2 separate regions of the Homo sapiens genome follow, and region 1 is linked to region 2. A link means that fine-mapping ties the variant in region 2 to the expression of a gene that starts in the linked region. Tissue or cell type: esophagus mucosa. Region 2 holds a variant in brackets; the other region holds the start of a gene. All regions are shown on one strand. Distances are between the middles of the regions.

Evidence for each region. PIP is the estimated chance that this variant, and not a neighbour inherited with it, causes the effect.
Region 1: it holds the start of UHMK1, and the variant in region 2 is fine-mapped to the expression of UHMK1 in esophagus mucosa (GTEx, PIP above 0.99).

Annotation. Positions count from the first base shown.
Region 1 is chr1:162,495,219-162,501,155 of GRCh38, forward strand. UHMK1 (U2AF homology motif kinase 1) reads left to right here and starts at 2,600. Exons shown (of 8, transcript NM_175866.5): 1 at 2,600-3,050; 2 at 4,737-5,029; 3 at 5,695-5,886. The coding sequence starts at 2,783. RefSeq lists enhancers at 2,336-2,836, 2,571-2,650, 2,837-3,337.
Region 2 is chr1:162,378,412-162,384,348 of GRCh38, forward strand. It overlaps C1orf226 (chromosome 1 open reading frame 226), which reads left to right and starts at 3,317. Exons shown (of 2, transcript NM_001085375.2): 1 at 3,317-3,807; 2 at 4,771-5,937. The coding sequence starts at 3,491. The coding sequence ends at 5,272. RefSeq lists a silencer at 3,968-4,262. The variant A/G (reference allele first, on the strand shown) is at 3,253.

The DNA of each region.
Region 1 (5,937 bases), 120 kb after region 2:
AAAACCCCGTCTCTACTAAAAATACAAAATTTAACCGGGCATGGTGGCGCATGCCTATAATCCCAGCTACTCGGGAGGCTGAGGTGGGAGAATTCCTTGAACCCAGGAGGCAGAGGTTGCAGTGAGCTGAGATCACGCCACTGCACTCCAGCCTGGGTGATAGAGTGAGACTTTGTCTCAAACAAACAAACCAACCAACCAACCTATCTTGTTACTGGAAAGTGGTCTCAATCCAGACCCCAGGAGAGGGTTCTTGGACCTCACGCAAGAAAGAATTCAGAATGAGTCCATAAAGCAAGTTTATTAGGAAGTAAAAGGGATAAAAGAATGGCTACTCCATAGGCAGAGCAACAGCTTAGGCTGCTCGACTTATAGTTATTCATATTTATAGTTATTTCTTGATTATATGCTAAACAAGGGGTGGATTATTCATGAGTTTTCCAGGAAAGGAGTGGGCAATTCCTGGAACTGAGGGTTCCTCCTCTTTTTAGACCATGTAGGGTAACTTCCAGGACGTTGCCATACCATTTGTAAATTGTAATGGTGCTGGTAAGAGTTTCCTTTAGCATGCTAATGTATTATAATTAGCATCTAATGAGTAGTAAGGACGACCAGAGGTCACCTTCACCACCATTTTGGTTTTGGTGGGTTTTGGCTGGCTTCTTTACTGCAATCTGTTTTATCAGCAAGGTCTTTGTGACCTGTATCTTGTGTTGACCTCCTATCTCATCCTGTGACTTAGAATACCTAACTTCCTGGAAATGCAGCCCAGTAGATCTGAGCCTTATTTTACCCAGCTCCTATTCAAGATGGAGTTGCTCTGGTTTGAACACCTCTGACAATCTGATGAGATTTTATGGTTTGTAGGCTGTGACTCCTCACATCCCTTAGATAAGAATTTGGGGCCAGGTGCAGTGGCTCACGCTTGTAATCCCAGCACTTTGGGAAGGTGAGGCAGGCGGATCACAAGGGCAGGAGTTCGAGACCAGCCTGACCAACATGGAGAAACTTCATCTCTACTAAAAATACAAAATTAGCTGGCATGGTGGCAAATTCCTGTAATTCCAGCTACTTGGGAGGCTGAGGCAGGAGAATCGCTGGACCCCAGGAGGAGGAGGTTGCGGTGGGCGGAGATGCCGAGATCATGCCATTGCACCCCAGCCTGGGCAACAAGAGCGAAACTCCGTCTTACCAAAAAAAAAAAAAAAAAAAAAAAAAATTGAGCAAGAGAGAAGACAGGTCAGAGTTTAGTCCTCAACCTCTCCTCAAACTTTCCACTTAGCACTACATGAACCATCTCATCTGGCTGGGAACTTACACAAAACCTGAAGAAAAGAAGATAGGGCCTATTGTCTGATACTAAGTTTTTGCCACACAATCAGAATAGATCTTGAAATAGAAAAGGTTGAATGACTGAAAAGTAAAGAAGGCTACATTTCTTACACACTCGAGTTTGTGGATTGAGATGCCTATTTGCTACATTTGTTACTCAATAAACGTTTGCTGAATGAATAAAATAATTGAATAAATAAATGAAAAATAAAAATTTGGAACAGATCCGTGTTTGCCCAGGGTGAATGCTTTTTGATGAGGGAGCCATAGGCAAGGTGGACTATGTTGATAAAAAGAGTTAAACTCTGTAAAATATTTGAAGAGATTTATTCTGAGCCAACTATGAGTGACCATGGTCTGTGACACAGCCCTCAGGAGATCCTGAGAACATGTACCCAAGGTGGTTGGGGTGCAGCTTGGTTTTATACATTTTGGGAGACATGAGACTTCAATCAAATATATTTAAGAAATACATTGATTTGGCCCAGAAAGGTGGGAAAACTCGAAGCGGGAATTGGTGGGGGGAGAAATGGGTCCTTCCAGGTTATAGGTAGATTTAAAATTTTTCTAATTGGCAATTGGTTGAAAGAGTTATCAATAGAAAGGAATGTCTGGGTTGTCATAAGAACTTGTGGAGACCAAAGTTTTGTCATGCAGATGAAGCCTCCAGGTACCAGGCTTCCAAGAAAATAGATTGTAAATGTTTCTTACCAGACCGAAGGTCTGTGTTGACCTTAACCGGAGAGGTATGAGGCTAGTCGGACCCCCACTTCCCGTCATGGACTGAACCAGAATTTTAGAGTGCCCTGGCCTGGGAGAAAGTCCATTCCGATGGTTGGCGACACGGGGGGCTTAGAATTGTATTTTCGGTTTACATCTAAAAGAAGAACAAAGGTCTAGGCTTCCAGAATCATGGGTTCTGGTGACCGTGGACCTGGAGGTGATGGTAAACTCTCTTTTTGTTCCTGGGGTGTTTTCCTTGGGATCCTTTCTATGAGAAATGTAGGCCGGGTTTTATTTTTCGGGTTCCTAGTGGTGAGGTAAGGTGAGGTGCCTCAACAAGAAAAAGGACCAGTTTTGGCTTCAGGTCTATGTGAAAGCGGTTAACACTGGGCCTGGAATGGTAGATACTCAATAATTAAGGTTACTTCTTATTCTCGGTTCTTTTTTCCAAACCTAGCGCGTCTAATCTCTTCTAGGCCCCGCCCCTTCTGAGCCCCCCCTCCTTCGGCCTGTATGATAGGCTCTTCCTCCATTTCCGGCTTCTGGGACTCGGGTGCACCACGGCTTCCGGTGTCATGGCTGCTTGAAGTCCCGGGAGTCGGTGAGGCGGCTGCAGGTCCCTCCCTGCGGAGCCGCTGGTCCGGCTGGCGGAGATGTGACCGCGGGCCCGGCCGGCCTGCCTCAGGCGTCGCGTCAGCTCCCGTGTCCGTGCCCTTAACCCACACCGATGGCGGGATCCGGCTGCGCCTGGGGCGCGGAGCCGCCGCGTTTTCTGGAGGCCTTCGGGCGGCTGTGGCAGGTACAGAGCCGTCTGGGTAGCGGCTCCTCCGCCTCGGTGTATCGGGTTCGCTGCTGCGGCAACCCTGGCTCGCCCCCCGGCGCCCTCAAGCAGTTCTTGCCGCCAGGAACCACCGGGGCTGCGGCCTCTGCCGCCGAGTATGGTTTCCGCAAAGAGAGGGCGGCGCTGGAACAGTTGCAGGGTCACAGAAACATCGGTAATTGCCGCTGTCTCCTTTCTCTTCTTGCCCAGGTCACAGTCCGAGCACACTCTTCCTCTCGCTGTCTGGCGTTCCATCTTCCTCCCCTTCTGCGGGAGAAGCGGGTTTAGCCCTCTTTATCACCCCATCCAGGCCCCTTTCCCCTTTCACTTTATTACTGTCTGCGGTATAGTGGAGTTGGTGGTCTGCTTTGCCAGGTGTCACATAGATGCTCAGTAAATTGTCTTGCTTCGAGTCTCATCGGAGAATGCCGCATTCATTAGCATACAGAAATATCTTTTCTAGTGAGAGGAGGCATGTCTTTGCTAGATTGTCGTGTCTTGTGTGGAAATTTTTGAATCTTTGCATACCAGTAGAAAATGGGAACTACGTCTGGGCCTTGTGACATCAATGCTAGTAACTCGTATAGCTCACCTATTATATCTTTAGTACGGATTTGGAAGAAATGATGCACTATTCCATGGGAGCCTTTATAGAAGTGTGAAATTTAGGAACACTATACCTTTGCTCTCTTGAGACTGTTTCAAGAATCAGATACTCAGAATGTAAGATATGTAATGATCACTGATGATTGATCTGTGAAAAGGTTTCATTTTCATTACACGACAGAAAGCTTATCATTAGTTATAGCTTTGGTTATTAAAGAAAAGTCTTATTTCCTAGCAAGTATGATGCATAGTTAATTTGAAGAGTGAGTTTTTTTATAATATCATTTTGGAGAAGAATTAACACTAGTGCTACATTTTTTTAGTTTACTAAATGGTCTGTTACTATAACCTTGGTATTGAAAAGGGAAAAATTTTGCAAGCCTAGGGACTTGCCTGATCTCTGCAAGATTAAAATTTCATCCGAAAAGTCTTAATCTCTTTGTTAGTATTTAGATTATAGAGAGCTGTTTATTTTTGTTTTAGTTTTTTTTTTTGAGACAAGTTCTTACTCTGTCACCCAGGCTGGAGTACAATGGCGAGATCACAGTTCACTCCAGCCTCCAATTCCTCCTAAAGCCATGCTCCTACCTCAGCCTCCCAGGTAGCTGGGACTACAGGCACGTAGCACCAAGCCTGGCTAATTTTTTGTAGAGAAGAGGTCCCCTTTTGTTACCCAGGCTGGTCTCCAAACTCCTGGGCTCAAGCAGTCCTCCTGCCTCGGTCTCTCAGAATGCTGGGATCACGGGCATGAGCCACCGTGGCAGACCTAGACTGCTGTTTTGGATGAAGAAGCAATGTTTAGTTTGGTTTTTGCGCATTGTGACATTCCTTTTAAAAGAGTTACTTAATATTTGGGTTTTTACTTTTAAAAATTTCTTTTTTTTTAAAGGACCTCATGATGCAACAGTAAGTTTTATTTATTTATATTTAGGTTTTTTACTTTTAATCATTTTTGCTTGGCACTCCAAGTTCGTGTTCATCACCAATGAGTACTTGGTGAAACACAAATTGAATAATTGTACCATATTTAGTATCTGTGAATGGTAATCAGCTGTTGTAGGCTGTCTCATCTTATTTTTATTAAAATAACCCAATTGCCAAAAGATCTTATTCATGGGAAAAATAAATTACAGTGGAAGCTTGCTCATCAAAGTTATCCTTATCTAGACTATCTCAAATTTGTACTGCAGTTACCTACTTTAGTAGTGACTTACTCTGAGTCTGATTTTTAAAGTATTATAATTTCTTTTTCTAGTGACTTTGTATGGAGTGTTTACAATCCACTTTTCTCCAAATGTGCCATCACGCTGTCTGTTGCTTGAACTCCTGGATGTCAGTGTTTCGGAATTGCTCTTATATTCCAGTCACCAGGGTTGTTCCATGTGGATGATACAGCATTGTGCCCGAGATGTTTTGGAGGCCCTTGCTTTTCTTCATCATGAGGGCTATGTCCATGCGGACCTCAAACCACGTAACATATTGTGGAGTGCAGAGAATGAATGTTTTAAACTCATTGACTTTGGACTTAGCTTCAAAGAAGGCAATCAGGTAAGAAATAACCTTTTCTTTTCTCTCGCAGTTTAAAATGTAGTGGTTGAAGCCAAATATTTTTAAATGACAAGGGTAGTTTAGTAGGGGCTTACAAGTCATTTTAACCTAAATTACTGAAATGCCAGGGGATGCAGTAAATCAAAAGAATTTCAGTGCCACCGTGTAAAAAAAGGACATAATGTTTGGGTCAGGTAGGAGGAGCCAGTGAAGCATGAGAGCTCTGGAATTATTAAAAGTACTTAACCTACATAGAATGGTTTTTTAAATTTTATGCGTGTTTGGCTAATTGCTGAGTTACTATTCCTGGTCTCTTCAGTGTTGGGGCTGTATCTCGTGGCAGAATGCATATGATAGTTCTGCCAAATCCTCTTTTCTCCATGGTTTATCATTTCTTTGCAGTGTCCTTATTATCAGCAGTGCCTAATAGGTAAGAGACAATCCAAAGAAGACTTCTTTATGAGCGCTATATGGAAATGTACAGCTTGCCTCTGAGAACTGCCCAGTTAATGAACCAAAGAATTATGGTAATCAAGGACTAAAAATTTTTAGCATTTAGCTTGGCAGTGGGTTTACTGCACTCTTAGGGAAGTAAATTCACTGTAGAGATGGATAGAAAGGGAGCAGCTTTTTTATTGGTTGTAATATTTACTCATCTTTTTTAGGATGTAAAGTATATTCAGACAGACGGGTATCGGGCTCCAGAAGCAGAATTGCAAAATTGCTTGGCCCAGGCTGGCCTGCAGAGTGATACAGAATGTACCTCAGCTGTTGATCTGTGGAGCCTAGGAATCATTTTACTGGAAATGTTCTCAGGAATGAAACTGAAACATACAGTCAGATCTCAGGAATGGAAGGTAAACTTCACCAGTGCTTTGCTTTGGGGTCCTTACTTTCAACTTAAGAGT
Region 2 (5,937 bases):
ATTATGGTGTAGAGAAAGCTCATGAGTCTGGGCATCAGCTTATGTGACTTCTAACCCTGCTCCGCCATGAGCTACCTGTGTGATATTGGGCAAATCTCTCTGCTACTTGGTTTACCCATGTTATTAGTTTAGACTCTAAACTGGAATGGATGAACATCTTCCTGGCTAAAACCCAGTGACTGACATGTGGACAGTAGCATACTTGTGAGTGATGCACACAGGACCCCGAGGACTTGGAATTGCATTCTGTCTTGACCCATCACATTTCTCCGACTGCCAACTTCAGACTCTCCCACTGCAACCTCAGACTTAAAGTAAAGGGAGCTTAAAATACTGGGGGGAAATATGGGAGGCAGAATCTCTCAGTGCCTGTGTAGAGTTTTTAAAATGCGACCCGGTTTTGGTTTAGTCACTGAAAAGTTTGTGGGAGCCTGGCGGTTCCAGGGTGCACACCACTCCTCGTAGCAGGTCCCCTGTCTTGTGTGCTGTGTCCCCCCGAGGTATGCTGGTGCTGGTGGCCCAGGCAGGAGGTGACACTCTCAAAGTGACTGGTCACTACGTAAAATGTGTCTTTCTTTTGTTTGTTTCCCACCTGCTTTCCGAGCCCCTTTCTCGGACAGGTAAGATATCCTGTTTTTTTGTGGATGACTTACATCCCCAGATGCCCTCCTCTGCTTGGGTGTGTGCATGTTGGGGGGTACTGTTGGGAGGGCCACCTGGCTGGGGTCCAGTCATCTCTCTGTCCTCCATTGCCATTATTTTCTGAACCATCAAGCCTCTAGTCCTGAAGCAAGAGAGATAATGTGTGGGGGTCATTAGCGTCATCATCAAGAAAGGGACCCATTGCACATCCTCAGACATAGGGATAAAGGGACCCCCCAGCCAGAGCCCCACTTTCACTTTGAATAGAAGGGCAGTTATCCGGGTCTGACCTCAAGAGCCCCTGAAGACCACTCCCATAGAGGGAGTTTTGAGTGGTTTTTATAAATGGAAAAAGACTTGTGAGCAGTTTCCCTACAATGTCAGTCCATCATGCAATTTTTAAGAATTCATATAAAAGTCAAATTCAATTAAACAAACTTATTAAATGCCTACTATCGTGCAAGACCCTAAGCTGGGCATTGTAGAAGATAAAGAAACACTTCAGGAGCTATGGCCCTCAAGGACCTTACCATTTTAAGACAAGGTGTATTTACTGGAAAGACTTAGACAAGGGTAAAGGGAGTGCATGGTAGGCTATCTTTACATTACTTAAGAATTCAGTGCGTTATAGACTATGTTATGAAGGGTAGAGAGCAAAAAATACAGGAAATCCAAAATGGTGCATAATCCAGAGTTCTGTTTATTACAAAGAGTGTTTTAAAAATAATAATAGCTTATAATTTACTAATCACCTTGACAGGTGTTTTTGGTGCTTGCCTTTTTAAAAACGAGTATGTCTGCTCTGAAAAGTCACTTTAAACCAATAAGGAGACCACCAGGGAAATGTCTGATTTGGGAAGTGGTGGCAATTTGCCTTCCCCGGGCATTTCGTACAGTTTCATTGTTGTCTATGTACTTTCTGGTTTGGGGGGAAATAGTTAAATGGTTTGGTTTCCAAATCTTCTTTGCTAGTTTGCGGATGACGTGATTAAAGAAAATAAGAAGGATGTGGGACCTGACAGGCAAATTGTGCCAAAGTGGATGATGTGGCAAGATACACACTTAGGAGAATCATCAGGAGTTGATGACCCTGCTTGCTGTGGAGCGGGCTGGAAGCTTCTGCTGGTGTGGTGGGTCTATCTGGAGCCCAGCCAGCTTGGGCCCTGTGTCCCAGGGATGCTGTCATGCTGTTCCCTGGCAGGTCCTCACCCTGCAGTGGTGCAGGCCACAGGGCTCATCCGCAGAGAGTAGTCTCCACTTCACTTCCCACAGGTTTTCCTCCCTGCCACCCAAAGGCCCTTAGAATATGGCATACCTAGGTAGTTGGCCTAGAAAGGATAGCACCACTGAAACCACAAGAAAGGTTTTCACTGGCCCGGGATACAGCAGTGCAGGGCAGAAAGAACTGCTTTACACAAAAATTCAGCAGAAGAAAAAGTACACCCTAACCCCAGTTACTCTTAGAAGAGGCTCAGTGAAAATAGACACTTAGCAGAGGTGTTCACAAGGAAAGGAGCCTAGTCATCAAATGATCGAGCGATCTCCTTTCCTCAGACTGACAACATATCTGGGGTAGTTGGTGTAGACAGAAACCTTGACCCAGATTCCAAGGCCTCAGAGTGGGTCTGGCTGCCTGATGACTGAGCTGGATTTCCAGATAGGGAGAGGATGGCCAAGTGTGAGTGTGTGGACAGCATGGCTTAGAGCCTGGAGCTCCAGTCATTTCAATAACAAACCTTTAAGCTACCACCTTGGCCACCACAATTTTCTATCTACAAAATGGGTTTTGGCGATTCAAGATCTGTATTGAGCACAGCTAGGTACCAAACCCAGGCTAGGTGTTGAAAATACAAAGATGAATGAGGCATGCTCTCTGCCTTGCAAATCTTTACAACCTAATGGGTTTATACCCAGCTCTTTGAGTTAATTTTTCAAGCCAAAGAGGATCCCTACAAGAAGGACCATGTACCAGGCATATATAGGCAGCTGTTCCATGATCTATAGCAGGGCAAAGTTGTGGACAGAGCCCTGAGCTGTGGGTTAGAAGGCCTGAGTTCTAGCTCCAGCCCTGCTAGTATTTAGCTGTGTGACCTCAGGCACGGCACTGCATTACGCGGAGTCCTGCAGGCTTCATCTGTAGGTAGATATCCTTCCATGTACCACCTCCCTAGGTGGTTGTAAGGATTAAGTAAGCTGATGTTCATTGGGATCCTCGTGCTTCACTGGCACCGAGTTCCTATCCATTTGGTACGAACTGATTCTGAACCACCACTTAGCACCTCTGCAAGAGCTGGCCCACTCGCTCAAGGCCCACCTCTGTAGACCTGAGGAGCTGCTGCCCCATTTTTTGTGGAGAATATGTGCTATACTCATGGCCTTCAGTGGGGAGCTTCTAACACCAAGCCTCATCCATGCCATCCCTCCACCAGCTTCCAACCCACTGAGAGCTCAGCACGTGCTTACGGTGATGTAAAAATGTCATGTTTCATTGCTTCATCCTCATTTTTTCTTTACTCCAAAGGGCGTGGTGACTCCAAGGTAAAGGGGCCAAGCCCATGAGTCAAGGAGGCAGGTTTACAGGAACAACTTTATTTTTTTATGGCTAGCATT[A/G]GTCACTGATTAACTTGGGTGGGGCAGAGCTAGAATTTCTAGTTCCTGTCCCATCAAGAAAACTACACTGGAAAGTTCAAGAGTGTCTTTGCTGGCTCTTTCTTGAATATTTCCAAAGCCTTGGAAGTTACAGGTTTTGGGTGTGGGATAAGGAAAAACTGAATGATAGAGCACAGGTACCGCTCCCCTTTCCTCATCATGCCTCTCTGTCGCCTCTTTGTTCATAGTTGACCACGGCATGTTTGAGAATTTGAACACAGCCCTCACTCCAAAGCTCCAGGCCAGCCGCTCCTTCCCCCACTTGTCCAAGCCCGTGGCCCCCGGCTCTGCCCCTCTGGGCTCTGGTGAGCCTGGGGGGCCAGGACTCTGGGTGGGCAGCAGCCAGCACCTCAAGAACCTGGGCAAAGCCATGGGGGCCAAAGTGAATGACTTCCTGAGGAGAAAGGAGCCCTCCAGCCTGGGCAGTGTGGGTGTGACAGAGATCAACAAGACTGCAGGAGCACAGCTGGCCAGTGGGACTGACGCGGCTCCAGAGGCTTGGCTAGAGGATGAAAGGTGAGCCCCTCACCCGCCCAACATCCATGCCCCTCTGTGGACCCACTTGAAAAGGTACAGGGACAAACTGCAGTGTCTGCACAGGAGAACAGCCCCAAGGGAGGGGTGTGAGATTGTCCTGTACTGAAAAGCTGCAGGATCAGGCCACGTTCTCGGGAGCTGGCTTCACCTTCTGCAGCCACAGCTGAAGGTTGCTGAGTGCCCACCATGTCCTCGGCTCTGTGCTGCTGAAGGTTGCTGAGTGCACACCATGTCCTCAGCTCTGTGCTGCAGGCTATAGTTGCATCATTTTGTCTAACCCTCCCAGCAGCCCTGGGAGGTAGATGATATTTCCATCCTGCAGATAACTCACGTTCAGACAGACAAAGTAAATAGCTTGAGGTCACAAAGATAGTACTTGGCAGAGCTGGATTTGAACCCAGCTATTGCCCAGAAGGTCCCCAGGTAGATTCTGATGCCCGGCCATAGCTGAGAAGCGCTGCCGTAGACTGTTGCTTGTGGAGAAGCCTGCACCTGTCACAGCCCACTAGGGCACAGTGGGAGAAGCCCCCTGTAGCAGCCCTCCTGTTCTTCCCCCTCCTACCAACAGGCTCTTTCCAGGCCTTGTTTTAAACACCTGTGCATCTGAGGTGGGAATGCCCTCACATTCCCTGTTTTAAACACAGGACTTACTGCCTGGGTTCTGATTTGACAAGCTTCACCAGCGGTCTCTATCCTGTCTTCTAGAGGCCAGCACTTTGTGCTGCTCTGAACACTGAGTAAGCATGGACCAGGCCAAAAGCTACTGTTATGCTGAAATTGCTAAGGCCTATGTGCCAAACCAAGAACCAGAGCCCAAGGAGTAGAGCAGTTATTGGGTGGGGTGGGTTGAAAGTGCAGTTGGAGTTGGAGAAGCAAGATGGCAGGTGGATTGGTGTCTTGCTGTCCTTAAGGCATGTGTGTTTATTGTCATTAACCTTACAGGTCAGTCCTGCAAGAAACATTTCCTCGGCTGGATCCTCCACCTCCCATAACCAGAAAGCGAACCCCTCGGGCCCTGAAGACCACCCAGGACATGCTGATTTCATCACAGCCTGTCCTCAGCAGTCTGGAGTATGGGACAGAGCCATCACCTGGGCAGGCCCAGGACTCCGCTCCCACTGCCCAGCCTGACGTCCCAGCAGACGCTTCACAGCCAGAGGCCACCATGGAAAGAGAAGAGAGAGGCAAAGTTCTGCCCAATGGAGAGGTTTCCCTGTCAGTACCTGACCTAATCCACAAGGATAGCCAGGACGAATCCAAGCTAAAGATGACTGAGTGCAGAAGGGCCTCCTCCCCCAGCCTTATCGAGAGGAATGGCTTCAAACTCAGCTTGAGCCCCATCAGCCTGGCTGAGTCCTGGGAGGATGGCAGCCCCCCTCCTCAGGCACGGACCTCCAGCCTCGACAATGAGGGCCCTCACCCAGACCTGCTGTCCTTTGAATAGAGCCTCTGCTCTTTCCTGCTGAGCTCTGCCCTTGTCTTCCTGCTGCTTTCTCCTCCACTGCGCACACTGGCCCTGGCCTCAACTCCGCTGTGCCCTTTGTCTTCCTTGTATGAGGCACCAGCAGAGAGCCAGTCGTCCATCATGGGATTTTGCAGGACTGGAAGTCCTTGAGTAGTTCTAGTTAAAGAGTCTATCCGCAGAATGGCTGAAGGACTTGATGCCGTTTTGAGCCTAATTTTCTGTAACCTCCTCTGAGTGGGCTGCAGCCCTTGGACATTAGAGCTCTTCCACTCTTGAGCTTGTCCTGTCTTCTCAGTGAATTGCAGGGCCACCAGCTCAGGACAATGGATCTTACAGGAATTCTTTTTGCCTGTCCCCTACATGCGCCTCCTCCCCTGCTGTTCTCCCTCCCACACCCCTGTCCCTTCTCTCTCCTCCTTGATGGGTCCGATGCCCCTGGCCTCAGCGGGAGGAAGGCTGGATGAGGAATGATGTGTTTGGCTTGATGACAGGCCATGGCCTAGAAAGCCACACACCCTGACCACAGCCCAGCCATAGCTCCTCTTGGTCCCAGGACAGTGCAGGCCCCTGGTTGCCATGTTTGCTCTGCCCCTGGGGTGGAGGCCAGAGGAGATGCTTACCAGGCCTGAGACCTTGAGAGTTCA